Homo sapiens: one gene and its partners. The protein of the gene in region 2 interacts with the protein of the main gene of each other region in a pairwise test. Each region holds a gene or a part of one and is shown on either strand. Other genes may lie near its edges. The genes, in order: CENPV, ATXN1, CAMK1, SDCBP, GPATCH8, TLE5 and RHOXF2.

Region 1 (4,168 bases), on a different chromosome or scaffold from region 2:
ACCGCTTCAGCCCTCTGACTCACTTTCCTCAACTGCCAGATGGGAATCACACTCCCTGAGCCAGGTTTGGCCAAGGCTAGACAACATTCAATACCAAGTTGAGAGTACAACATGCAGAAAGGCACAGCCCAGAGCAATCTCTGACTGGCAGCCTGAAGAATTCACAGGCCTTTCCTGTGTTTAGATAGATAACTTTCTTTCCTTTTTTTTCAGATGGAGTTTAGCTCTTGTTGCCCAGGCTGGAGTACAATGGCGTGATCTTGACTCACTGCAACCTCTGCCTTACGGGTTCAAGTGATTCTCCTGCCTCAGCCTCCCAAGTAGCTGGGAATACAGGCGTGCGCCACCAAGCCTGGCTAATTTTGCATTTTTAGTAAAGATGGGGTTTCTCCATGTTGGTTAGGCTGGTCTCGAACTCCCGACCTCAGGTGAGCCACCATGCCTGGCCTCAGATAGATAACTTTCTAAGAATTAAATGTCTTCCCATTTGCACAGGATTTCATACTTTTCAACTCTTTCCTGTTCTGCAAGGTAGACAGGAAGGAGTCTCCATGTGACAGATGAGGAACAGGAGGCCCTGAAGCAATGGGGGAGCGGTAAGGATGACATCCTGCCCTGCCCTGCCTCCCCCACCTCCCCTGTCCGCTCCCCACCACCATAAGGCAAAAGACACTGACAGTCATAGCTGCTCTCGCAGCTCTGGAGGCTGCACTGACACAACAAGAGTCCTCAGAACATCTTCCACCTCTGCTTTCCCCTTCAATTCACACTATAGTTGGTATGATTCTCAACAACTGTCAGAGGGTTAGTTTTATTACTCCCCAGACCCAAGCAGGCCCTGAAGCGGGGCTTGGAGGGTTCCCTGCTTGTTTATTATTTTTTAAAAAGAACAGAGATACGGTTTTGCTATGTTTCCCAGGCTGGTCTCAAACTCCTGAGCTCAAGAAATCCTCCCACCTTGGCCTCCCAAAGTGCTGGGATACAGGTGTGAGCCACCGCAGCCAGCCAGTCCTGCCTAATTTTTGAACAACCAAAAAGCTTTCAAATGCCATTATCAATGCTCCCCAATCTTGCCTCCTTCACTCCCTTAACCCCTGTCATTATTAAAGCTGCCTCCCCTGGCCCCACAAGCCCATCTCCTCACCCCTCTCCTCCCTACCCTTCAACACCATCCCCAGCAACACCAGCTCTACCAGCACCAGTGAATAAGAATCACAACCTGGATGGGCTCCAAGTCCAACTTCACCACATTCAGATATGGGATTCAGAAAAGTTTCACCGGAGCCCGACTCACATTCTATCATGTGGAAAGCGCTCTGCTGAGGAGCCCTGTTCCTCTAAGATACGCATGTGACAGGGTCTAGTCAGCATCCCACCTGTCCAAATAAGACTTTAAATGAGAGCACCATGGGCCTCTCTGTGTCCCCCTGAGCTTGCAGTCCATCCCCTTTACTCACCGAAGCCTCCGGGGTTTGATCGTGGAGTATAGAAGCTCTGAACGCCACATCTCTTACAGAAGGTATGCTGGGCTTTGTGAGTATTGAACGTGTAAGTCGTTATGTGCTCAGCTCCCTAGGTGAAAACAGACAAACGGTATTCTTTTTTACAAAGAGATTTATTTATTTAATTTATTTATTTATTTATTTATTGAGACAGAGTCTCCCACTGTCTCTCAGGCTGGAGTGCAGTGGCGCAATCTTGGCTCACTGCAACCTCCACCTGCATGGGTTCAAGAGATTTTCCTGCCTCAGCCTCCCAAGTAGCTGGGATTATAGGCGCGTGCCCCCATGCCCAGCTAATTTTTTGTATTTTTAGTACAGACAGGGTTTCACCATGTTGGCCAGGTTGGTCTCGAACTCCTGACCTCATGATTCACCCACCTTGGCCTCCCAAAGTGCTGGGATTACAGGTGTGAGCCACTGCGCCTGGCCCCAAAGACATTTATTTTTATGTCACTTAAAAAATACACCTTTGTAGCCGGGTGTGGTGGCAGGCGCCTGTAGTCCCAGCTACTCGGGAGGCTGAGGCAGGAGAATGGCATGAACCTGGAAGGCCGAGCTTGCAGTGAGCCGAGATCATGCCACGGCACTCCAGCCTGGGCAACAGAGCGAGACTCCGTCTCAAAAAAAAAAAAAAAAAAAACACCTTTGGCCAGGCATGGTGGCTCATGCCTGTAATCCCAACACTTTGAGGCCGAGGCAGGCGGATTGCTTGAGCCCAGGAGTTCAAGACCAACCTGGGCAACATGGCAAAACCCTGTTTCTACAAAAAAATATAAAAATTAGCCAGGTGCAGTGGCACACATCTGTAGTCCCAGCTACCTGGGAGGCTGAGGTAGGAGCATCAGTTGAGCCTGGGGAAGTAGAGGCTGCAGTGGGCTGAGATCGCACCATTAAAAAAAAAAATCTTGAAATAACTTAATGGCAGGAGCTCTTCTGTAGGGCTCTTTGTACTAAGAGGCCATTTCCTATCTCCAGAAGAGACTGGGACCTTCTTGAGGACAGAGACCCATCTACACTATCCAGAGACATGTCAGTCTGGAGCGTGACAGCTCACAGCTTCCCTTAGGTCAACGGCATACAGAATTCAGCCTTGAGCCTTCCCTGATACATCACATCAGGGAGGGAAAGTGCTTGCTTCCCAGGGCCTATGTGGAGAGACAGTTCACCCAAGGGACTGGCTCTCCATGTCCCCAAACAGAACGGCTCAAGGTCTTAAGAAAACTGATGGCTGTGCTTAATTTATCCACAAAGGACAAACCAGGAAAAAAATATTTGCCAGACGTCATAGACAGGCTAATTTCCTTAATGGATAATACAAACGGGAGACTGGACAAAGGACATGAACGGACAGTTCAGATAGAAAGAAAAATAAATCACTCTTTAGCCTATGAAATGCTCACCAAAGGAACTTCAATGAGATGTATTTCACTGTCAGGTGGGCAAAATCAAAGCCGTTAACATGGTATTGACAAGTATGTAGAGAAATATGTGCTCACATATATCAGTCACAGGAACAGGAATTGGTACAATTTAGCAACATCTACCAAAATTTTAAAGTGTACATATGCTTTAGCACACAATTCCATTTCTTGAAATTTATTATACAGATATATTCCAAATGTCTCAATGACATAGGTATATAGATACTATAGCACTGTTTATGAAGGCTAAAGATTGGAAAAATTGAAAATGTCCCTCAATAGAGGACCGGTTAGGCATTATGGACACTCATAAAATGAAATATTCTCCAACTTTTGAGAAGAATGAGACAGCTCTACAAAACTAACATGGAACAATTGCCAAAGTTACAAAGTAAAGCAAGGTATAGGCCAGGCGCAGTGGCTCACGCCTGTAATCCCAGCACTTTGGGAGGCCAAGGTGGGCAGATCACTTGAGGTCAGGAGTTCAAGACCAGCCTGGCCAACATGGTGAAACCCTGTCTGTACTAAAAATGTAAAAATTAGCCAGATGTGGTGGCGGGCACCTGTAGTCCCAGCTACTCAGGAGGCTGAAGCAGGAGAATCACTTGAGCCTGGGAGGCGGAGGTTACAGTGAGCCGAGATCACACCACTGCACTCCAGCCTGGGCAACAGAGTGAGACTGTCTCAAAAAAAAAGTTAAGCAAGGTATAAAACAACGTACGTGGTATGCTACCATTTCTTTTTTTTTTTTTAAGGCTATATACTGGTATGTGTGGTGTTTTTGTTTTGTTTTGTTTTGTTTTTTTGAGACAAGATCTCACTCTGTTATCCAGGCTGGAGTGCAGTGGTATGACGACAGCTTACTGCAGCCTTGACCTCCCAGGATCAAGTGATTCTCCCACCTCAGCCTCCCGAGTACCTGGGACTATAGGCATGCAACACCACACCTAGCCGATTTTTTATTTTTTGTAGACATGGGGGTCTCGCTATGTTGTCCAGGCTGGTGTTGAACTCCTGGGCTCAAGTGATCTGCCTGCCTTGGCCTTCCAAAGTGCTGGGACTACAGGCATGAGCTACTGTGCCTGGCCTGTATGTGCTTTTATATGCATATGTATCTTTGAAGAGGGATCCAAGAAACAGTGGCTTACCTTTAGGGAGAGAAATCAGACAGCTGAAGGGGAAGGGGTGGAGGTTTCTTATCCTTGTTAACCCTCTTTACGCTTCCCCAGCCATACCGTCCAGAAT
Region 2 (4,168 bases):
TGTAGTCCCAGCTACTTGGGAGTCTGAGGCAGGAGACTCGCTTGAACCCGGGAGGCGGAGATTGCAGTGAGCCGAGATCGCGCCACTGCACTCCAGCCTGGGCGACAGAGCAAGACTCCCTCTCACAAAAAGAAAAAAAGAATCCAACAATATTTTAAATATTGTTACATATAGCCAATATTCATTCAGATTCACCATGTATCTACCATTTTCATTCCTCTTCATTCCTCCCTGTACAAACTTCAATCTAGATTTGTTTTTTCTCTACCTAAAGAATACCTTTTAGTATTTTCTATAATGCAGATCTGTTGATGGTGAATTCTTTTAATTACTGTTTGTCTGAACATGTCTCTATTTTGCCTTCATTCTGGAAGGATCTTTTTGCTCCATATAGAATTCGCCATTGACAATTCTTTTTCTTTAGCACTGTAAAGATATTCCATTGTCTCCATTGTCTACTGGCTTCCATTATTTTTGTTGAGATGTAAACTGTGAGTTCCATTGTTGCTTATTTGGAGATAATATGTATTTTGTTCTAGAGGCTTTTTTTTTTTAATGGAGTTTCTCTATTGTCGCCCAGTCTAGAGTGTGATGGAATGATCTTGGCTCACTGCAACGATCTTGGCTCACTGCAACGATCTTGGCTCACTGCAACCTCCGCCTCCCGGGTTCAAGTGATTCTCCTGCCTCAGCCCCCCGAGTAGCTGGGATTACAGGTTCCTGCCACCATGCCCAGCTAATTTTTGCATTTTTAGTAGAGATGGGGTTTCACCATGTTGGCCAGACTGGTCTCAAACTCCTGACCTCAGGTAATCCACCCACCTCGGCCTCCCAAAGTGCTGGGATTACAGGCAGGAGCCACCACACCCAGCCTGTTCTAGAGGCTTTTAACGATATTTTTTCCTGTTTAGTTTACAAGATGTCTTTGATTTATAGCAGTTTAATTCTCATCTGCCTCAGTGAGGATTTCTTTTTGTTTATTTTTCCTGTTTGGGGCTAGGCCTTCTTGAAACTGTCTTATTATCCTTCTTCAGTTTGGGAAAATTCTTAGCCATTACCTCCTCAAGTATTAACTTCTGCCCTATTATCTCCCTCTCTTCCTCCTCCTAGGATTCAAATTATGTGTCTGTTAGCCCCTCTCAATGTATCCTATGTGTCTCTTACCCTCTCCTCCATATTGACCATCTTTTTGTCTCTATGTTCACTCTGTGGAGTCTCTTCTAAAGCTCTAATTAGAGAATCCAGTTCCTGAATTCTTTCTTAATCCATGTCTATTCAACTGGAAAGCTCATTGCATTCTTGATTTCAGTGGTGTATATTTTAATTCTACAATTCTCATAGACCTTTTTTAATTAATTAATTATTATTATTATTATTATTTATTTTTTTTTTTTTTAGAGACAGAGTCTCACTCTGTTGTCCAGGCTGGAGTGCAGTCTTGTGATCATAGCTCACTGCAACCTCTAACTCCTGGGCTCAAGATCCTCCTGCCTCAGCCTCCTGAGTAGTTGGGACTACAGGCACGCATCACCACACTAGGCTATTTTTTTTTAAATTTCTGTAGAAACGGGGTCTCATTTTGTTGCCCAGACTGGTCTGAAACTCCTGGCCTCAAGTGATCCTCCCTGTCTCAGCCTCCCAAAGTACTGAGATTACAGGCATGAGCCACCATGCCTGGCTTCATGGATCTTTTAAAAACAGATTCTAGTTTCCTATCAAAATTCTCAAGCTGTCTTTAATCTTCTTAATTATTGTAAGCATAGTCTTTGTAAAGTCTATATGTATGACTCTATATGAGAAGCCCTGGTGCATCCTTTTTTAAGATCTGATATTTTGCTAGTGCTTATACAAGCTATCTGGTCTCCTCATGACCACCACCCCCCTTTTTTAAATTGAATGCTTTTATTTGCAAAATTGTGAAAGTAATTCAAGACCTTAATCCAGTTTTAGGGACTCAGATGAGTCAATCTGAGCTTCAGACCTTGAAAGGCCTGTTGGCTTGTGGTTCACTGTCTCCTCTAAGGGACAGTGCTTTGGGGTCACAACTCAAAAGAATGGGGCTCACCAGAGAACACCCTCCCTTGGTGTATCCTGAACTCCATTACCTGTTCCCTATGCTCTTAACACTATCAAAAGCCCACTTGGTTTCCCAACTGCTCCACTTTGGAATGTTCAAGTGCCTTCAGGAGAAAACAGGCCCCCAACACCAGCTTCACCTCTCTGGGCCATCATCTTTTCCTGATCCAACCCAGGAAGTGTGTGTGTGTGTGTGTGTGTGTGTGTGTGTGTGTGTGTGTGTGTGACGGAGTTTCACTCTGTCGCCCAGGCTGGAGTGAAGTGGCATGATCTCGGTTCACTGCAGCCTCCGCCTCCCGGGTTCAAGCGATTCTCTTGCCTCAGCCTCCTGAGTAGCTGGGATTATAGGCGCCTGCCACCACACCTGGCTAATTTTTGTATTTTTAGTAGGGACAGGGTTTCACCATGCTGGCCAGGCTGGTCTCAGAGTAAAGTGGCACGATCTTGGCTCACTGCAACCTTCGTCCCCCGGACTCAAACGATTCTCCTGCCTCAGCCTCCTGAGTAGCTGGGATTATAGGGGCCCACCACCACACCTGGCTAAGTTTTGTATTTTTAGTAGAGATGGGGTTTTGCCATGGTAGCCAGGCTGGTCTCAAACTCCTGACCTCAGGTGATCCACGCGCCTTGGCCTCCCAAAGTGCTGGGATTACAGGCATGAGCCACCGCGCCTGGCCTTTTTACTATCTTATTTGCTGTCCAGTACTATAAGAAAAAAAGTTTAAACATTTTGTCCAGAGTTTTTAAATTTATTTGTTTGCTTATATTTTTGTTCAGAGTTTTTAGTTGTCCTCAGAAGGAGGGTTGGTCCAAATTACCTAGTCTACTACATCTAGAAAGGACATTGGAAATTGACTTTTTTTTTTTTTTTTTGAGACGGAGTCTCACTCTGTGGCCCAGGCTGGATCGCCCAGTGGCACGATCTCGGCTCGCTGCAACATCTGCCTCCTGGGTTCAAGTGATTCTAGTGTTTCAGCCTCCCAAGTAGCTGGGATTACAGGTGCCCGCCACCACGCATGGCTAATTTTTTTTTTTTATTTTTAGTGGAGACGGGGTTTCCCCATGTTGGCCAGGCTGGTCTTGAACTCCTGACCTCAAATGATCCACCCACCTTGGTGTCCCAAAGTGCTGGGATTACAGGCATGAGCCACTGTGCCCAGCCACCAAGCATCCTTTTAGGGGCTGGGGACTCAGTGATAAACACACTGTGCCTGCTTCTTGGAACTCACAGTCTCACTCTGATCCATGTTTAGTCCTGTCCTGTATGATAATAGCAGTTGTCCATTGAGCTCATAAAATCTAAGACCGCGCTGGGCTTGTGAGCCACCTGCAGAGCCTAGCTTGGTGCTGAAAGCTAAGTGGGTGCTCTGTCATTACTGGGGTTCGATTGACTGGTTCTAACAGAGACCAGCTATAGAGCTAACACTTGATGGAATATTTTGAATATTGATGACCTTTTCACTGGCTTCTGCCTATGGCAAGTAGAGGTACAACCCAAAGAGAAGAGCCTCATTTATAGTGTGTGGCTGGGGGAGAGGGAGGTTTGCAAACTGAGTCATTTTCCCCCATTCAGCCTGTGTGTGTCTGTGTGAGTTCATACCTGTGTGTGTGCATAAAATCAAACAAGAATAAAATGTTTTCATTTGTTCCCTTCCTTCTTCCTCTCTCTGTCTCTCCCTGTTTCCACAGGTCAGCGTTGAAGTTTTGGTAGAGTATCCTTTTTTTGTGTTTGGACAGGGCTGGTCATCCTGCTGTCCGGAGAGAACCAGCCAGCTCTTTGATTTGCCGTGTTCCAAACTCTCAGTTGGGGATGTCTGCATCTCGCTTACCCTCAAGAACCTGAAGAACGGCTCTGTTAAAAAGGGCCAGCCCGTGGATCCCGCCAGCGTCCTGCTGAAGCACTCAAAGGCCGACGGCCTGGCGGGCAGCAGACACAGGTATGCCGAGCAGGAAAACGGAATCAACCAGGGGAGTGCCCAGATGCTCTCTGAGAATGGCGAACTGAAGTTTCCAGAGAAAATGGGATTGCCTGCAGCGCCCTTCCTCACCAAAATAGAACCCAGCAAGCCCGCGGCAACGAGGAAGAGGAGGT
Region 3 (3,769 bases), on a different chromosome or scaffold from region 2:
AATCTTCAAACATAGTCTATTTGAAAATACCTCTCCCCTATTGACACCCTAATGTCTAAAACACCACCATAAACATTTTCATCCTCCTTTTGTGCCCCCTATTAAGAAGCAAACCTGTGAAGCTACTATCGTTTATCATCAGTGTGAATGCACTGAGATTAGTCAAGAACAACTTTTTTTTTTTTTTCTTTCTTTTTTGAGACGCAGTCTCGCTCTGTTGCCCAGGCTGGAGTGCAGTGGCACAATCTCGGCTCACTGCAACCTCTGTCTCCCGGGTTCGAGCAATTCTCTGCCTCAGCCTCCCAAGTAGCTGGGATTACAGGCGCCCACCACCATGCCCGGCTAATTTTTTTTGTATTTTTAGTAGAAACAAGGTTTCACCATCTTGGCCAGGCTGGTCTTGAACTCCTGACCTCGTGATCCACCTGCATTGGCCTCCCAAAGTGCTGGGATTACAGACATGAGCCACTGTGCCCGGCCATATGTTTTTCTTAAGAGAGAAAGGAAAGAGCTGGAAGGCACGGGGTGGGAGGGCCTGAAGAAGAGCATAGGTTGGGTGGGGTGGGGCATGGACTGATTTGGCCTCTTTGTCTTGATGCCAGGCCAGACCTGAGGGAGTGGGTATGCTCTTGGGGAGTACACAGGCAGTACCATGCTGTCATTATCTTTGCTTTTGTCTTGGGGGTTTAGCCAAAGATTTCATCCGGCACTTGATGGAGAAGGACCCAGAGAAAAGATTCACCTGTGAGCAGGCCTTGCAGCACCCATGGTGAGAATTCACACAACCTGTGAGCTGGGGCGGGATTTGGGGCCCTCAGGTCTGCTTCTGCCCTCATAGGCAACCCACCACATAACCCCATCCTAGGATTGCAGGAGATACAGCTCTAGATAAGAATATCCACCAGTCGGTGAGTGAGCAGATCAAGAAGAACTTTGCCAAGAGCAAGTGGAAGGTGAGTCCATATCCCTAGTTCTGGTCCCAGCCTCCCCAGGACTCCTCCCCATCCCTACCCAGGCTCAGCTTGCACAGCACCTGGCATCACACTGGGCACACAGTAACTGCTTAGGGATCCTTACTGAAGGACTTCATTCATTCACTCTTTCATTCAACAAACACTCCCAACACCTTCTCTATTCCAGAGAGGGTCCCTCACCTCCAAGTCTAGAGGAAGAAGTCTGTAATTCTTCAGGAGGCATCTGATCCAGCCTATGGGGTCCGAGAAAGGTCATAAAAGTGGTGATGACCTGACAGAGCTGTCAGTTAAGTAGGAATTAGTGAGGCATAGCGGAATAATGTCTATAGCCATTCCGGGAAGTGCAAGTGCTAAGCCTGGCCAGACTGGAGGGGCTGAGGGGACTGAGAGGCAGGAGCCCAATTTAGAGAAGCAGGTAAGGGGCCAGGCCTCTTAGGGCCTCATATGCCACAGAGGAGCACCAACTTGATCCTGAGGGCACTGAGGAGCCCCAGAAGAATCTTAGGCAAGTATTTGCTGCATAGAAAGGGCTCTCAGGGCCAGGCATGGTGGCTCACGCCTGTAATCCCAGCACTTTGGGAGGCCGAGGTGGTTGGATCACCTGAGGTCAGGAGTTCAAGACCATCCTGGCCAACATGGCAAAACCCTGTCTCTACTAAAAATAAAAGAATTAGCCACACATGGTGGTGCGTGCCTGTAATCCCAGCTACTTGGGAAGCTGAGGCAGGAGAATTACTTGAACCTCGGAGATGGGGGTTGCAGTGAGCTGAGATCGCGCCACTGCACTCCAGCCTGGGCAACAAAGTGAGACTCCACCTCAAAAAAAAAAGAAAGAGCTCTCAGGATGCAGAGAATGGCATGGAGTAAAGACTGGGTGACGCATTAGGAGGCTGTGGCAGAGATACAGGCAGGAGATGGTAAGGGTTTGGAACCACAGTAGCAGCAACAGGGGGCAGAGAACAGTGGTTGATCCAGGAGTCATTTAGGAGGTGAAACTGACAAGACATGACGATGCAATGGATGTTGGGGGAAAGAGATGTCAAGGGCTGGCCCAAGACTGTGGCTGGGAACAGAATGGATGGTGGTGGTACCATGACTGAGATGGTTATCACAGGGACAGAAACATGTTTTGGGGGGATGGTTTTAGTTTTAGACATGGTGAATTTGAGGGGTGTGTGGGACACCTAGGTGGAGATATTGAATAGAGACACACCTGAGCAAGTTACTTCAGCTTTCTGTGCCTCAGTTTCCTCCTTTGAAAATGATAATAGTACCTACCTCAAAGACTTTCATGAAGATTAAATGAATTACTACGTAAAGTGCTTAGAACAGTGCCTGACATACAGTGCTATAGTGTTTGCTATTACATATTAATATGAATTATAGTTATGTTTCTATTTATATATATAGATACACATACATCTAACATATGTGCGTGTGTGTGTGTAAATATATAATAAAGCCTTGTAGAGGTTTTTGGGGGGCTTTAGGGGAATTAATAAAATAACTCCTGAATGAAAATAACAGAACAATTGCAAGAATCCCACTGCGCCCCTGCCCCATGACTTGACTCTCTCAAAAGTCCTTTCTCCCCTCTCCCTTCAATGCCTTCAATGCCAGCAAGCCTTCAATGCCACGGCTGTGGTGCGGCACATGAGGAAACTGCAGCTGGGCACCAGCCAGGAGGGGCAGGGGCAGACGGCGAGCCATGGGGAGCTGCTGACACCAGTGGCTGGGGGTGAGGAGCGGGCTCTGCAGAAGGGCATGGGTGGTCCACAAAGGTGCACCCGGGCTGGAGTGGAGGGCCTGCCCCTGCGGCCACCTCTGTTCTGTCTTCCCATGCAGGGCCGGCAGCTGGCTGTTGCTGTCGAGACTGCTGCGTGGAGCCGGGCACAGAACTGTCCCCCACACTGCCCCACCAGCTCTAGGGCCCTGGACCTCGGGTCATGATCCTCTGCGTGGGAGGGCTTGGGGGCAGCCTGCTCCCCTTCCCTCCCTGAACCGGGAGTTTCTCTGCCCTGTCCCCTCCTCACCTGCTTCCCTACCACTCCTCACTGCATTTTCCATACAAATGTTTCTATTTTATTGTTCCTTCTTGTAATAAAGGGAAGATAAAACCATCCTTAGCGCTGTCTCCCTCAATATCCCCCACCCCATCTTGTTGTGCAAACTGACTGCTTGATTTGGGGGTGCCTGGCCTTTGAGGTAGTCACAGGGAGGCCCCTCCCCAACATGAGACTGGGTGGGGATGGGGAGAGAGAAGTGGGGAATGGAGGGGAAGGTGCTTGGGGAATTTCTTTGTCCAGGGTGCCCCATCTAGCCTTCCGGCCCTTTGGAACCCTTTCTGCGCTTTGCTGGTGGCTCCTGAGCATGGCGGGATTGGCGCAGGTCGGCACTGAACAGCACCTGTAGGAGGGTGGAGTCTGTGTGGGGAGGAGGGTACACTGGGGTCAGGGCTGGTGAGACTAGTGACAGTGTTGGGAGGTGGAAGAGTCCTTGGGGAACAGGGCCGAAGGCAATGAGAATCCACTGGGGTTGGGACAGGGGTGGCTGGAGAGTCCTTTAGGGCCACCTGGGGCGGTGGTGGAAGAGTCCACTGGGTCTGGGCTGGAGGAGAGGAAACCTAGGGAGGACACCTAGGTACACTCACCGCTTGGGCCCAGCCAGCATAAGGTCCCCACAGGCTCCGGAAAAAGTTTCCTAAATCAGAAGTGATGAGACTAAGTTATCTGACCCCTTCTGTGACCCATCAACAGAAGTAGGGTCTGAGGGAGAGGTGACTAAGAGAGAGAGAA
Region 4 (4,168 bases), on a different chromosome or scaffold from region 2:
TTTCAAAAAATGGTGCTGAAATAACTGGGTTTCCACATGGATAATAATGAATATGGATCTATACCACACACCGTGTACAAAATTAACATAAAATAGATCAAAGATATAAATGCAGGAATTAAAGACATAACATTTTTTGAAGAAAACATAAGGGTAAGTCTTCATAACCTTGAGTTGGGCAGTAGTTTCTTAGATGTTATATCTAAAGCATAAGCAACCAAGAAGAAATATAGATTCAAATTTGTCAGAATTAAAAACCTCATATTGCAAAATGCACTGTGAGAAAAAATGAAAAGACAATCTACAGAATAAGAAAAGTATTTGTAAATCATATATGATAGTGGTCTATGATATGGTCTGAATGTTTGTGACTGTGTCCCTCCATTCATATGTTGAATCCTGTAATCATCAAGGGGATGGTATTAGAGTTACCATATGACCCAGCAGTTGCATGCTTAGCTATATTCCAAGAGAATTAAAGATGCATTTATTAAAAAAGTATATAAACTTACATATTATTTGCTAACAATGCAAATGCTCATTGGCATTTTTAACAGCATTATTTATAATAGCCAAAAGTGCAAATAACCCAAATGTCATCAGCTGATGACAGCATAAATATAATGTGGTATACATACAATGGAATATTATTCTGCTATGAAAATGAATGAAATACTGATACATGCTCCAACACAGATGAACCTTGAACATATGCTATGTGAAAGAAGCCAGATGCAGAAGGCCACATATTCTAAGATTCTAGATTAAGTATCCAGAGCAGGTAAAAACAGAGGCGGGAAAGTGTATGTTGCCTGGAGCTGGAAGGAGGGTAGAATGGGGAGGCATGAGTTTTCTTTTGGGGAGGATGGAAATATTCAAAGATAGGTAGTGGAGATGATTGTAGAAGTCTGTGAATATACTAAAAACCATTGCATTATATACTTTGAAAGGCTGAATTTTAGAGTGTGTGAATTAAATTTAAAAAAAAAACTATCTCATACTGTCCAACTAGGAGACAGAGACCATATAGTGATTTTAACAGTGGAGGTTTAATACACAGAATTACTAGTTATAACATGATTGAAGAAATAGAAATTGACTTGTAAGAAGTAAAGACAACTTTTAAGAATACTGTAAGAGCAGACTTAATAAGTAGCCACTAACTCTAGGGCTGTTCCCATACTGGGGCTGAGATTCAGGTCTGGTTGAAGAGGGGACAGATGTCACTGGCAGATGCTGAAGTTGCCGGATACCATGCTTCTGGAACTTATTCTCCCTCTGGCATTCTGAACCTTGGAATTTGCTGCAGAAGCCACGTGAAGGGGTTGAGAAAGCTGCTCAGGGAGATTCCTTGGTGGTGGCATTCTGCTGCAGAGTTACTCAATAGAGTGCTGGGGTGAGCTTCTGCATGCTTGTGAAACTACTCCTGGCAGGAGTCTGGCTAGAGTAGTACGTTGGAACCATGAAGAGAAAAGCTCTTCCTCCTACAGTGTACCTCCAGTTGCCTCTACTGACAAGGCTTAACATCATGCCAGCTGGTAACAGAGCAATGTTGAAAGAGCTCAGCTCCATTTTGGGAGAGAAAGCAATAAGAAGTGGATTTGGAAATGGGAGGTAATAAATTGATACCTGAATCAAGAATCTTACGTTAAACCACATACCAGTTTAGCATATATTCTGTTTTATTGGGTTGAGTGAAAGTATCAGGTATTCATCTCAAAACAGCTAAATAAAATTTAAAATATGCATTCATATAATACATTTAGAGAATTGTGTTTTAAATTATTACAAAAAGCAATTTATAACTAAAAAACATACTTCTACTTAATACAGAAGTATTTTAAATGAAAAGTAAAAATTTCCCTCTTATTCCTCACTCCTTTACCATCTGTCTTCTGAAGAAAAATCTGTTAGCAGTTGATATAGTTTCTTCTGTATACATATATGTGTGTATATATTTTTCTTAGTAATAGAGGTTCATGTATTGATACTGCATATGATCTGCTTTTAGGCTTTTATTGTTAGAAGGAAATGTAGCTGTGTAATGCCCAAGGGCATTGTACTAAGGGTAGTTTCCTAGTCCTGGCTAAGTTGCAAGTACTTGTGTAAGTTAGGAGTAAGTCACATAACTATTCTATTTGATTTTCTAAATTTGTAAAATGAAGGGACTTTTACTTGAATTTTAAAAATCGGTGATGGATATAGTTCAATAATACTATTAGGGGAAGGAGAGGTAGTTTGGTAATTCTTAAGTATCAGCTAACTTTTAGTATGGCCTATATATTCTTATTTTTTAATATGTTTTGCAATTTAAATGTTTTTTATTGAGTTAAATAGTTCTACTTGTTTATGTGTCTGTGGTTAGCTGTGTATACTATTTCAATTTCTATGACATTAGAGTAATAAAACTTTCTTTTTTTCTTTAGAAGAATCCTGCAAAAATGTCTCTCTATCCATCTCTCGAAGACTTGAAGGTAGACAAAGTAATTCAGGTATGATAGTTTAAATACTTTTGTCAAAACAAACACAGTAACATGCATTCTACTTATAGGTGAAATAAAGCAAGATAGCTAAATAGCAGATATATTTGTTCATTTTTACACTTCATAAACCTTTTTTTAGTTTTATTAATTGCAGACTGAAAAGTTTACAGAAAAATTAGCAATTTTTTTTTTCATTTCACTGTGAATTAATAGGCATGAGATTTTTTTAATTCGACTTACACTTTTTACATTTCTGGTTAAAATTTAATTATATGTAACATATTTGAGTTGACAAAATATACTCCAATTTTGTAGATATTCATAGTTTTGTATAAAATTGGTATATTTTTCTTTTGGATCTTTAGGTATGACCACTCTTTAATTCTATGTCTCTTAACTGAAGTTAAAATTACAGAAATAGTGGCGTACATGCTGCTTTTAGAAGAGCAGTCATGTAAGAGCACAGGGAAAGTGTAGTGATTTCTTTCCTTTGAGAGATGAGCAGCAGACATTTCACTTGTTCATTCTCTAAATGACTGTGTAGAGATTGCAGTATTTCTAATTGCATTGAGTTGAAAATTTTTATACTCCTTTGTATAAGTATTAGCTTTGAAGACAAATGCTTCTGCTTAAGAACAAAGTGAGGAATTGGGACCAATTCTGGCTAATTGGGAAATTTTTGGTAATTATTTTAATTGGGGGTAATTTGTAGTATATGATGAATTTGTTTACGGTTAGCTTTCAACTTGATCTCTTATCAATTTAGAATTTCTTCAGCCGTTGTTTATTGTTTTAATTTGACAAGATAAACGAAAACTCCTTACCCTGAAGATCATTTTATTGGGTCCCTGTCTTCAATTTACTAGAAAGTGAGATATTCAATTTACTTACTGATAATTGAATTATGAACAATTATTTTCTATCATAGATCCAGTATGGATATTAAAATGAGGTTTGTAAAATCTCTAAAATCTACAGTTCAGCTGCCAAGGCTTTGATGCCTCAAAGTTTCAAGTGGCCTATTCAGTCATCTTTTACATGTTCCTATCACTTCTTTAGTATTTTGTCAGTATTTTCTTCATGTGGTTTTTATTTCCACATAGTTCATCTAAACAAGCACTTTTCTTTTTAAAAGGCCTTTATCTGAAATATTTAGCTTTCCAGAATAACTGCTTAGCCATTAATATGACATCAATACATTAACTGATAAGGATTTTTAGATGGACCTGTAAGAATGACTAATCTGTTCTTTGTTTTCATCCTTTTTTTGTTAGCTTTTTATGGAATTGAATGTAAATTCACCATAGTCAGATATGAGCTGAGGCTTTTGGTTTTGAAAACAGCAGCAGCAGAAGAGTTGATATTGACAAATATTGGAATGAAAAATAAAGAGGGCTACAATCTGTATCATGCTGCCCTCTTTAAGCAGAAGTGAATTACATAGATATTTACATTAAAGAACGTTTTATGTTCAGAGCAGAAAGCAGCTGGGAGATAGAACAGTGAATAAGGAGTGGGAAACATGGTTCTTTTATTACCCCTGAATTTAAAAATATTCCTAATTTAGCCATTAAACTCTTTGGCTGTTTTTGTTTTGTTTTGTTTTGTTTTTTTGCATCATTTTCTAAGGTGGATGATACTCATGTTTGTTTTTATTCTTAAGATTCTCCTGAAACGGTATTATG
Region 5 (4,168 bases), on a different chromosome or scaffold from region 2:
CAAAACTATCACAAGAAGAATTAAAGCAAATGGCAGGATACTCCTGTTTTGCTCACTAACAACTTTTATTCCTTACTATCTATGGGGCTTACTAAATAACAGTTACGTGCTACTCATCTGTGTACAATGTCAGAACAACTTTAGTTGCTTTTTCTTCCTAAATTAGGAATAAAATACTAAACATATTTGTTTAAATTCCAAAGAAATCATTTGGTATAAGAACGACCATACATTATACACCTTCTTTCAGCCTGGGCATATTTAACTTTTTGCATTGACTAATACGATATGCATTAAGCACATTTGCTTAGACCTCCAGAGTTAAATGGACAATTCACTTTTTATAAGTGGAAAATTATTACAACATCTTCTGGTATTCACTGCAATATCAAATCAATGACTTCTTTCAGTATTTGTGGTGGTCATCTGTAATTCCTTTGGTAATTACCATGAATCTGCTTTCACTTAATGCTAAATGGTAATGCTAATATGAAAAGAAAATTAATGCCAGACTTACAAGCAAAAGTACCAAGTTGTTTCAGGGAAGGAATTTTAATAGAACTCACGAACTGGAATCTATCTACTTCAAGCTAGAAACCATTTTCATTAATAAAATACTAGAAACTAAGTCACAAGAGCAAAAATGAAAACTTTACATAGGTTTCTGATTCATAATTAAGATCTCATGAACTTCTGCTACGCTTTCAGAAAATGGCAATCTTGGCCAGGTACAGTGGCACATGCCTGTAATCTCAACACTTTGAGGGGCCGAGGTGGGAGGATAGCTTGAGCTCAGGAGTTTGAGACCAGCCTGGGCAACATGGAGAAACCCCATCTCTACAAAAATGAAAAAAATTAGCAGGGCTTGGTGACACACCTGTAGCCCCAGGTACTCAGGAGGCTGAGGTGGGAGGATCACTTGAAGCTGGGAGGTCAAGGCTGCCAGGAGCCATGATCGCGTCACTGCACTCCAGCCTGAGTGACAGAGTGAGACCTTGTCTCAAAAACGAATTTTTTATTTAAAAAAATTAAATTTAAAAAAGTCTTGACCACATCAAAAAAACAGACTGTCAGCTGGGTGCAGTGGTGCATGCCTGTAATCCCAGCACTTTGGGGGGCTGAGGTGGGAGGATCGCTTGAGCCCAGGAGTTCAAGACCAGCCTGGGCAACAAGTTGAAACCCCGTCTCTAAAAAAAGTACAAAACTTAGCCAGTCATGGTGGTACATTCCTGTAGTCCCAGCTACTTGGGAGGCTGAAGCGGGAGGATTGCTTGAGCCCAGGAGGTGGAGACTGCATGAGCCAAGATCCCACAACTGTACTCTAGCCTGGACAAAAGAGCCAGACACTGTCTCCAAAAAAAAAAGAAAAAAAGAAAAGAAAAACAGACTGTCCTTTTAAAAATTTTTATCATGTACCCAGATAGACAGAAATCACATGGAAATGTATCTCAATTATGAAGCAGCACAATCAGGATAGCTTATTACATATGTATCTTGAAATATTTTTAAGTCACAAATTTTAGCTTTGGTTATACAATTTATCATAAAGACATGAGAAACTGTGATGAAAGAATCCCTTTGCAGTACTCTAATGAGAACTGTGTTACATGTATAGAAGAAAGGGAAAGGTACAACAGGAGTACCTGTTTTTCTATCATTTTGACTGTATTGTAAGAGCCCTGAAATAATACTCGGCATAATACTCTATTTGTCCAGATCTGTTTCTTCCTGCCTCCCATGCCTACTTTGAAAACAAATAATATACATCATCACATGAAGTCCTCTGATCACAGTTCTTCCCAACCCCAATCTTTCCTAATTACAACTTAAGTCTCTCTCTGTGATGTTGAGATGTCCTTGATATGTCCCACATTTGAAAAGTGATTATATACCATTTACCCTTCAAATCACCTCCAGGGAAACTTCTCTTATGCTGACTTTACTTTGGTCACTCTCGATCTCCTAAGAATGTATTAACCAATGTCAATATCATTTTGCATTTGCTAACAATCATGTCAATTCAGCATCAGTATTTTGAAACTGGTACAGCCCTGATTCTAATCCTTTTCACTTATCATACTATGAGACAGGGAAGAGTAATGATTTTGTATAAATTTCAGTATCCCAAGCCAAACTGACATTAATTTTCACAGCTTGTGGCATTTCTTCCAGATTACGGGAGCGAGACATAGGAAAAACGATTTAAAACACTTGTCCATGTGTCATATCTGGCATACCTGAATTACAATGCCAACTATATTACATACAGAAAATACACTAATATGCTTCTGTGACTTAAATATCTTAAAACTATGAACCTCTTCACTTAATAGTCTCAACTAAGAATTTCCTAAGGGTCACATACTGGTTACATATGGAAACACAAAGAGGATTCCTACAAACATACTGCATAAATGTAATACATGACTAGCTTATTGCTATTTACCATTATGATTACTTACATAGATTACAGAAAGTTCTTGGGCAATTTCTGTATTTTTATTACGACCTTTAACATAGCATGTCTTGTTTCTCTTATCAACTTATCACTCACTGATCTATTACTGTAGTTCCTTTTCATTAGAAATAAAATGCAGAGGGCCAGGCGCGGTGGCTCAAGCCTGTAATCCCAGCACTTTGGGAGACCGAGGTGGGTGGATCACCTGAGGTCGGGAGTTTGAGACCAGCCTGACCAACAGGGTGAAACCCCGTCTCTACTAAAAAATACAAAAAAATTAGCTGGACATGGTGGGACATGCCTGAAATCCCAGCTACTCGGGAGGCTGAGGCAGGAGAATCACTTGAACCCGGGAGGCGGAGGTTGAGGTGAGCCAAGATGGTGCCATTGCACTCCAGGTGGGCAACAAGAGCGAAACTCCATCTCAAAAAAATAAATAAATAAATAAAATGCAGAGAACACTCGGAACACGAATCATCAGTCCTCTGCAGGTACATATACTAAAGAACATTTCCTCACCAGCATTCAGCTGCATCACCAATAATAGCTGCGCAACCATAAAATGCTAAGCACTGTTTCTTAATGGCACCGTATAGCTAGCTGTACATCACTGTACAAACAAAACTTTCTTTAATGAACCTGTAATCCAAAGTGTTGATTATCTTAAGTTATACATTTTCCATTAGTTTGTGTAACACTTCAATTTGGGAACAAATATATCTTAATCTGGTAAATGCTGGCAGAAGTAATATCTCATTCAGAAATTGAGGCCAGATTCTTAAAGGAGTAGTTAAAACTCTTAAAACATTTGTAAAAATAAATACATCAGCTTAGATTACAAAGATTTCCAAAGATTAAAAAAAAAAAAAACACTTAAAAGGCTAGACAAAAGAATGTCTAAACTAAAACAGGTAACAATATATCCTCTATGACACAATGTAATTTATCATTGTTGAAAGCCTCCCTAGAAGCCGTTGGGAGACCAGAAAGAGACAGATCTGGACAAAACCAAACAAAATAAAAACTGGAACTGTATCACCTTTCTAAAAGCTCCCTTATTCTTTGTCACCTATAAGTCTATCCTCCACATTTGATGACCCAATTACAGCTACATAAAATGTATAATTGTCAGCAGCAGACAGAATGGTCATGAGGACAAGTACAAGAATCCAAAAGCCAGTATGAATTTAGGCTCTGCCATTTAACAGATGTATGTAATTGGCTAAGTTACTTAATTCTCTGTGCCTCAGCTGAAAACGGCAGTAATAACAGTACCTACCTCGTAGGGTTATAGTGAAGACTATGAGATAAGACACATAAAGCCTGTGGAATAGGACCTGTTTGTTATTATAATAAAGTTACCAATTAAAAAAAGTTAGGTCCCTGATAATTATTAATCTCTATATACATGAGTGCTTCAAGTGGCATACCACTGTTAACTATAACTTTTCACTATATATACAAAATACCTTCGCAACTTTAGGTATTCACAAATTTTAATAGCCCAACTCCCTCACTCCATAATAATTTCAAGAGACATCAAACTCTCCAAAATTTGCACTTGATAAACCGGTAAAGAGTGAAGTTCTACAACTTTAAATCATCCTGCTAAATTAAAGGCAAAGAAAATAAGTCATCTCGAACTTACCAGAGAAGATGAACAATTTCCAGTGCTACAAGATCTGTTGAAAGCAACAAGATCTATCCACT
Region 6 (4,753 bases), on a different chromosome or scaffold from region 2:
TAAAAAAGAAGTTTCACTCCAAAGCCTGCATTTCTGGCCTTTCTTGAAAAATAGGATGGTCTGGCCACCCAGGGGCTGTTACGCCTCGAACATCCGGTGTGTGCCTCTGATATGGTAGGGTCCCTCGTTGGACAGCAGGAAGCCCAGGCCCAGCGGATGGAGACCCCAAAGCTCAGAGAGGGCTTCCGGCTTAGCAGAGGTCACACAGCACTGTGACCGCCATCTGATCCCTTCCCTGTGGAATCAGGTCAGCCCCGGGGCTCACCAGGCGGTATCCAACCCTTCATATCGAGGAACCCGCACAAAAGCTTCTGGGGCCTGCATGGAAAGCTGACTCCAGCACCTTCGACTGTCAGTGTCTCAGTTTGCCCAGCTTGAGAATGGGTACGACAGTCGGACGACAGGAAGGATGAAGCACGAGGAGGCACGAACGGTCTTGAGCACACAGGGAGTACCCAAAAAGGTGGGATATTTGCAGCAGCAACAACAAAATCGAGATTCCCCTTTCTACTTGGAGGAAATCCAGGATCCTTCCAGGAACACTTCTGGGGTGGGCACGCTTCAGTTTAGAGAGGGCCCCAAGGCCAAACGGGGGTTTGAGCATAGCCTGACTTTCTCCAGATTCCCAGGCCCGGCGTGCCCCTCCAGAGCAGGGCAGGCGAGAACCTATATCCTTAAACCAGGAGAGAGACCTGGTGCAAACCTCAGCCTTGCCACTTCCTCAATGCTATGGACACCCCCGAGGAAATAACATCATAACATCTCTGGGCTTAAGTTTCTTTTTTTCTTTCTTTTTTTTTTTTTTTTTTTTTTTTGAGACAGAGTCTCCCTGTTACCCAGGCTGGAGAGCAGTGGCTCCATCTCTGCTCACTGCAACCTCCGCCTCACGGGTTCAAGCAAGTTTCCTGCCTCAGCCACCCGAGTAGCTGGGATTACAGGCGCCCGCCACCACACCCAGCTAACTATGTATTTTTGGTAGAGACGGGGTTTCACCATGTTGGCCAGGCTGGTCTCGAACTCCTGACCTCAAGTGATCCACCTTCCTCGGCCTCCCAAAGTGCTGGGATTACAGGCATGAGCCACCACGCCTGGCCTGGGCTTAAGTTTCTTTAAGTGTAAGAGGACTAAATAGTTCCTTCCCCTTAGATACCGCAGCGTGGCAAGCTCTTCAGAAACGCCAGATTTCTGAAAGAAGCAGCACCTTGGAGAATCTGACGGGTGCTGGGAACCCTTTCTCCAAAACTGGGCAAAGAGAGAGATGACCAGGCTGCAGAATGTTTCTGTTTTGGGGGTTGAGGGATGGCGAGTCCGTGCCGTAACTCCAATTGTTGGAAGGTCTTTTATCCAATGGGGGACTTGGGGGTATTGGGGAGGAGGGAGGGGCTCTGAAGCCACACAGCTGAATCTTTGGGCAAATTATTTAACTATTTTTGTGCCTCGGTTTTCTCCTCTACAAAATGGGGCTGTTTAAAATAAATGAATTCAGTATTTGTCAAGTGATTAGGTCAGAGTCTAGCATATATTATTTTCCCAATCTCCAGGCCTCAGCCTTGCCATCTGCGCAGAAGAAATGGGGGGACTCACATTCTCGGGACGCAGGGACCCCCAGTCCCCCAGCTCACCTGTGGTACTGAGCTTGCAGTAGCTGAAATTCGTCTTTGATGCGGTCGCAGGAGTCCGAGGTGGTGAATTTGAGTTGCTGGGGTAGGTGCGAGGAGCCCTGTAGGGATGGGGCGGCCCGGGTCAGGCCCAGGCGTGGGCTGGACCCCCCTCAAGGGCCGGCTAGGAGGGAGCGGCCGCGCAGCTGCGGCGCCCCCCCTCCTGCCCCACTTCCTGGGCCCGTGTTTACGGCCCCTGGCGCGACCCCACCCGCGCTTCCTGCCCCCCGCCTCTCCCGGGGGAAGCCGAGCGGGTGGGTGCGCCCGGAGCCGCCCCGTCCCCCGCCACCCCCAGGCAGTGGGGGTGCGTTTTAAGGCCCGCCCTAGATGGGGGGCAGGGTGCGCCCTCTACCGCCCTCCAAAGCGCCGGGAGGGAGTGCACATCCGAGGGGGGTAGAAACGCGCCCTAGGGAGCCCCCTCCCCAAGTTGGGGGGCAGCGATTCCTCCCTGCAAAGTCCTCTTGGGGGAGGGGTCTCTCTCTCGGTGCTCGAAATCTTCCGGGGGGGCCCAACCCCAGATTCCCAGCGCCCTTCCTCGGGGACACGCTCTTCCGGGAGGGGTGCGCCTCGGATCACCCCCCCCACCACAGGCCCCCAAAGGATCCCCGGGCTAGAGGTGCCTCGCGGGGCTTCCGGAGCGCCCCAGGCCCGAGGCCAAGGCCGTCCGAGGCCCTGACTGTCCCGGCGGGTTGGGGGGGGGGGGCGCCAAGCCGGGAGCTGCGGCGGGGGGGCTCGGGGCCCGGAAGCTGGGGTGGATCGGGAACTGGAGGGGGGGTGTCCGGGGGCCGGCGGCAGGAGGGGAGGGGGGTCGCGCCGGGCTGGGAGCTGGAGAGGGAAGACAGGGCCGGGGAGTTGGGGGGGGCGCCGGGCCGGAGGCACCGGGCCTGGGGGTTGGGGGGCGCGGGGCCGGGAGCCGGGGGTCGGGGGCGTAGGGCCCGGATCCGGGGTGGGGGCGCCGGCCGGACGGGCCCCGCTTACCGAATGCCTGCTTTGTGGAAACATCATGTCAATCGCGGCGGGGGGCGCGGGCTGCGCCCCGGCTGTGCGCCCCGGCTCGGGCTGCTGGGGGCGCCGGGCGGCCGCGCCTTTGTCCCGGCGCCGATCGGCAGCTCCCGGGGCCGCCGCCGCCTCCCGCGCCCGGCCTCGCCCGCTTCCTGCGCCCCCTCCCCGCGCGCCCGGCCCCGGCGCGCCCCGGGCCCCGCTTCCTGCGCGCCCGGCGCCCCTCCCCGCCCCTCCCCGCCGCCCGCCTCCCCGCTCCCCGGCCCCACCGCTATTGTCTAATGGCGGCGACGCCGGCAGTGGCCGCGGCTCGGCTGCTGCGGAGGCTTCGGCTCCACCTGCCGCCGCCCGTGCCCCGTGCGCGCCGCCGAGGGGGGGGACGCGCGCGCCCGGGGAGGCCTGCGGATCCCCACGCCGGCCCGCCTCCCCGTGGCCCGCCCGCCGCGGTGACCTTGGGCCCGGCCCGCCCCCGCCCCGGGCAGCGGCCCCCGCCACCCTCTCCTACCCGGCAGCCGGCCGGGCCTCGGTTTCCCCATCTGTCAAAGAAAAGGGACCCGGCTGCCCGCGTCGAAGCCGCCGGCCCTGCTGTGGCACGACCTGGACGCGTGCCACGGACGTGCTCTGTGACCTTGGCTCTGGCTGGGCGGTGGTTCTTGCTGAGCCTTAGTTTCCTTTTCTGCAGAAAGGCAGCGGTAATGCCGCCTTCCTGAGGGAAGCCATTCTTGTGACACATTTATAGAACGCCTACTGTGTGCCAGGCCCCGCTGCTCCAGGGCCCTGGGGTGGGGCGGGGCGGGGGTGGGTCCCTGCCCTGGTGGTGGTGCCTGGAGACAGACAGAGACAAATTCACAAGCTGAATTCCTGGCAGGTCAGATGGTGGGGACAGTTCTGCAGAAAAACCAGCCGGGAGAATGGCAGGGTAGGAAGGTGCAAAGTTAAAGAGGTGGGAGGGAGGATCAGAGACGGCTTCCTCCACCCCTAAAGCGACCTGAAGAAGGAGGGAGAACAGGGGGATGGGGTACAGAGGTAGTCAGAGGCAGGACCAACAGGTGCAAAGGCCCTGGGGCAGGACTGTGCCTGGCAGCAGAGTGCCCGGGGGGAGGTCAGGAAGGCCGGAGGGAGGCAGGGCCGGGGGCTTCGTGCTTTTGTCCAGGGCCCCCCCACCCCACAGCAGGGCTTGTGCTTGGGTTAATATTTACTGCTGCATTTTGAGATTTCTAATCATTTTTGAACAAGGGGCCTTTGAGTTTTCTTTTGCACTGGGCCCTGCTAACTCTGTAGCTGGTGAAGCAGGCCAGTCCAGCAAGGACTTGTGGGTCTTGGGGAGGACTTGGGATTTTGCTCTGAGTGAGGTAGGAGCCCTGGAAGGCTGTGGGAGGAGGAGGGACGGGACCTGGTGGTTGGTTGGTTTGTTTTTTGAGATGGAGTTTCGCTCTTGTTGCCCAGGCTGGAGTACAATGGCACAATCTCAGCTCACCGCATCCTGGGTTCAAGTGATTCCTGCCTCAGCCTCCCGAGTAGCTGGATTACAGGCACGTGCCACCACGCCCCGCTAATTTTGGAGTTTTAGTAGAGACGGGGTTTCTCCATGTTGGTCAGGCTGGTCTTGAACTCCCGACCTCAGATGATCTGCCCGCCTCGGCCTCCCAAAGTGCTGGGATTACAGGCGTGAGCCACCGTGATCAGCTGTTTGTTTGTTTTTGAGATGGAGTCTCACTCTGTTGCCCAGGCTGGAGTGCAGTGATGTGATGTTGGCTGACTGCAGCCTCTGCCACCCGGATTCAAGTGATTCTCCTGCCTCTGCCTCCTGAGTAGCTGGGATTACAGGTGCGCATCACCACGCCTGGCTAATTTTTGTATATTTAGTAGAGACAGGTTTCACCATATTGGCCAGACTGGTCTTGAAATCCTGACATCAGGTGATCCTCCCGCCTCCACCTCCCAGAGTGCAGGGATTACAGGTGTGAGCCACTGCGCCTGGCCCTGGACTTGGGCTTTTGCTCTGAGTGAGGTGGGAATCCTGGAGAGCCGTGGGAAGAGGAGGGATGGGACCTGGTGGCGGTTATTAAAGGATCCCTCTCTCTGCCACGCAGAGA
Region 7 (2,927 bases), on a different chromosome or scaffold from region 2:
GGCTTCCTTCCCGATACCATTTTGGTTTTGCTGTTTTCCACCCTGGCAGTAACTTGAAACACACTATTCTCTCATTAGGGACTCACACCACCCCATCCTGCACATGTACCTGGTATCAATGGGGGCAGAGAGGAGATGAGTATGGGGTGTTGGGGGTGGGGGTGGAAGAGAATGTCTGGGTCGGTGTAAGCCTGCCATGGGCACATGGGAAAATTCTGTGACATGCACAGCCCCCAGATGGTGACTCAAGATTACTGCATGAGACGAGAGTCCGTGACATTCGGTTTGAATGGCATTTCTTAACAATTTTTATTGAGAACTTACTGACCCCATGTGACACACAAAACAAATGTACATACCCTTCACATATTTATAGAAACATTTTTACAAGTGCCCTAAAAATGGGTCAATGATGTACTTTTCTTTAAAACGTTTAATAGACATTTGATGAACTACTTTTGATGGGGTGCTATGCAAAATATGAATCTGGCTCAAAGACACTCTGGCAAAAAGTGGCACAGAGGCTATCCCTTAGACATTGGGGAATGTGAAAGAAGGCACGATAACAAAAGGGAATGGGCCAAATTCAGCCTGGCCAGCGGGTGGCATAGGTGGAAGAAGCATGAGTGGAAGGGGCAAGGACGGAGGAGGAAAGGGTGGCATGGGGAAACACAGGCTGCTGGAATGGCTGTGGTCCCAGAAGTAATCATCTCTCATCCCGCTGATGAACAAGGGTGCCGTTATGGCCTCAGCTGCGGTTACCATGACAGGCTGGCCCACTGCCATGAAGGGCAGCATGTTTCTTGCCATTAATGCCCTCTGATGTCTCCTCCATTTGGCTCTTCTATTCTCAAACCAAATCTTCAATCAGAGGAAAAAAGAAACAGGTTTAGTATACTGAGCATTTAATTTCATCATGGAAAAAAACACAACAAGCAACTCTCTATGTCCTTAACCTTTTCGGGTGTATCAAGACAAGCTACTTCCTTACTACTAAAATATCTTAGAAAGGTGACCACCACACCTTTCCCCTAGTGAGCTCCAAGTATGTGCTACGTACGCTCTGGCTTGGCTTATTTCTTTGTCTCTCTCCTTTTATCTGTAATATTACTTTTTCCACTCTTGGGTGCAGGTGTAGCTGATGAGTGGGACTCGATCCCTGCTGGTATTGCTATGTGTGGCATGTCTGCTTGCAGATACTTGACCATCAGCTACCCAGCTGCCCACCAACTCCTACTTACTAGGCCACTGTCACCCTGGTCGTGGGGGAAGCTGAGCTTGGAAAAAAAGGCGGGGGTGCCTTTTAAAGTCATACCAAGAAGATGAGGCCCCCGTTTTGAAAAGCCCATCTTCAGTGTAAAGTAAAAAATCGGTAAGAGTACATTGTATTTTAAAACAAGTTTTCTTTCCTTCAAGAAATTCTAAGGGGTCATTCATCTTCTGAAACTCCTTGAGAATTAAAAAGATGGTATATTGCAAGGCAAGTCTCGTTATAGGGGGCCCAGGGAGTTTGTGGATTGTCTTGCTGGGAAATGAGGGTATCTGAAGCCCTGGACACTCTTCACACTTCAGCTTGAAGCTTTGTGGAAGGAGGACACAAATGTTGTCCAAATTCACAAAAATTCTCAAAAAGCTTTGCCCAGTTGAGAGTTTGAGAGAAAGGAAGCATTGCTAATTCTGCACGCTCCAACTCATCCCTCCCTCCAAATCTTCCTGGGCTAAGGACAAGGTCAGCTCACTTTGTTCTCCCTATAGTCCTGGGATATGGGACAGAGACTTGGTTGCCCAGTTCCATGGGACGCCTTCAGCCATCTAGCCTCACTACTCGAGCAGAAGATCCCAATCTCATCAGCATTCCCAAAGCGGGAGTGTCCAAATAGGCAACTCTGAACACGTTCAGTAGTAATGTGGAGGAGGTATCAAAAAACACTACTCCCCAAACACCTGCCAATTGTTAAAAGACCAAAAAATAAAACCTGTCAATTAAACAACACTATCCCCCAAGCTTCTAGTTAATGACATTTCCATTGTATTTTGATCCTTCTGGAAGTTCCCAAACTGCAAATTTTATGGGACAAAGGGACTCTTCTCCCTGTTTGATGCCCCATTTCCTTCTCCCATCTTACTATTTGGAGTCCTTCTCCCTCATGAATACATAGTCTAAATTTTAAGCCTACCGTAATAGTGCTTGTTTAGAGACAATTCCAATGTACCTGTGGTCAAAGGTTCATAAACATAAGCAATGCCAAAAGTGGGCCAAATGTGCTATGGGACAACATTAGGTCCCTAGTCTCCGTATCGGTTTCATAAACCAGCCCTTACTATCTTTACAAAACAGAGGGGGGAAACATCTATTAAAAATTTTTGGAGATATTCATGCTGAAATGTTTGGCAATAGATGAGAACATCATGCCTTTTTCCTTATTTGCTGAGTGAGAGTGGTCCTTTTGCCTTCAGAACTGCATTGAGTGAATGCTATGTAAACCCAGGGAGGGGAAAGGCAATTCACCAAAACGTCAATATTTCATCTCCCCCAAATTGGCATTGCCTGCCTGAGAAAATGGAGGGCAACAGGATGCCAACACTCAGTGCCCCGTTTTGTCAGGCAGCTTTTCTGCATGCCACCATTGACAGAACCGCAGCATAGTTCCCTCACTGCACTCACACACATGAGCTCTGCAGAAAAGCTATTAAGGTCATCCCGATTTTTCTTTCTTTTCTTCCTTTTTTGCAAATACTCCTTTGGATCCACTGACCTACAAATTTATTATCACAGCCTGAGCAAATAAATAAAAAGGTATTTCAAATTACCACAGGTAAGAGTCTAGCCTGACCTGACAGCCATCCCCCACTATCAACACATTCCACAAAACACATCTCTTCCTGTTAGTACAACAAACTGGAAGAAACAAAAAATCTCTTAAATG

Evidence for each region.
Region 1: the proteins of ATXN1 (region 2) and CENPV interact in binary tests that used the Homo sapiens proteins (3 or more experiments, as listed by UniProt).
Region 3: the proteins of ATXN1 (region 2) and CAMK1 interact in binary tests that used the Homo sapiens proteins (3 or more experiments, as listed by UniProt).
Region 4: the proteins of ATXN1 (region 2) and SDCBP interact in binary tests that used the Homo sapiens proteins (3 or more experiments, as listed by UniProt).
Region 5: the proteins of ATXN1 (region 2) and GPATCH8 interact in binary tests that used the Homo sapiens proteins (3 or more experiments, as listed by UniProt).
Region 6: the proteins of ATXN1 (region 2) and TLE5 interact in binary tests that used the Homo sapiens proteins (3 or more experiments, as listed by UniProt).
Region 7: the proteins of ATXN1 (region 2) and RHOXF2 interact in binary tests that used the Homo sapiens proteins (3 or more experiments, as listed by UniProt).

The regions. Positions count from the first base shown.
Region 1 is NC_000017.11:16,343,140-16,347,307, forward strand, and holds part of CENPV (centromere protein V), read right to left. Parts: intron 1,573-4,168; coding exon 1,458-1,572; intron 1-1,457. UniProt on the Homo sapiens protein: Required for distribution of pericentromeric heterochromatin in interphase nuclei and for centromere formation and organization, chromosome alignment and cytokinesis.
Region 2 is NC_000006.12:16,306,457-16,310,624, reverse strand, and holds part of ATXN1 (ataxin-1), read left to right. Parts: intron 1-3,765; coding exon 3,766-4,168. UniProt on the Homo sapiens protein: Chromatin-binding factor that repress Notch signaling in the absence of Notch intracellular domain by acting as a CBF1 corepressor. Binds to the HEY promoter and might assist, along with NCOR2, RBPJ-mediated repression. Binds RNA in vitro.
Region 3 is NC_000003.12:9,756,672-9,760,440, reverse strand, and holds the end of CAMK1 (calcium/calmodulin-dependent protein kinase type 1), read left to right. Parts: intron 1-690; coding exon 691-769; intron 770-865; coding exon 866-953; intron 954-1,154; coding exon of another isoform or gene 1,155-1,254; intron 1,255-2,594; coding exon 2,595-2,712; coding exon of another isoform or gene 2,713-2,819; coding exon 2,820-2,902; coding exon of another isoform or gene 2,903-2,924; 3' UTR 2,925-3,094; downstream 3,095-3,769. Other genes in the region: OGG1 (N-glycosylase/DNA lyase), read right to left, coding at 3,625-3,674. UniProt on the Homo sapiens protein: Calcium/calmodulin-dependent protein kinase that operates in the calcium-triggered CaMKK-CaMK1 signaling cascade and, upon calcium influx, regulates transcription activators activity, cell cycle, hormone production, cell differentiation, actin filament organization and neurite outgrowth.
Region 4 is NC_000008.11:58,562,593-58,566,760, forward strand, and holds part of SDCBP (syntenin-1), read left to right. Parts: intron 1-2,426; coding exon of another isoform or gene 2,427-2,441; coding exon 2,442-2,492; intron 2,493-4,168. UniProt on the Homo sapiens protein: Multifunctional adapter protein involved in diverse array of functions including trafficking of transmembrane proteins, neuro and immunomodulation, exosome biogenesis, and tumorigenesis.
Region 5 is NC_000017.11:44,496,586-44,500,753, forward strand, and holds part of GPATCH8 (G patch domain-containing protein 8), read right to left. Parts: intron 1-4,168.
Region 6 is NC_000019.10:3,059,538-3,064,290, forward strand, and holds the start of TLE5 (TLE family member 5), read right to left. Parts: upstream 2,959-4,753; 5' UTR 2,664-2,958; coding exon 2,637-2,663; intron 1,721-2,636; coding exon 1,623-1,720; intron 1-1,622. UniProt on the Homo sapiens protein: Transcriptional corepressor. Acts as a dominant repressor towards other family members. Inhibits NF-kappa-B-regulated gene expression. May be required for the initiation and maintenance of the differentiated state.
Region 7 is NC_000023.11:120,161,392-120,164,318, reverse strand, and holds part of RHOXF2 (rhox homeobox family member 2), read right to left. Parts: intron 862-2,927; coding exon 532-861; 3' UTR 1-531. UniProt on the Homo sapiens protein: Transcription factor maybe involved in reproductive processes. Modulates expression of target genes encoding proteins involved in processes relevant to spermatogenesis.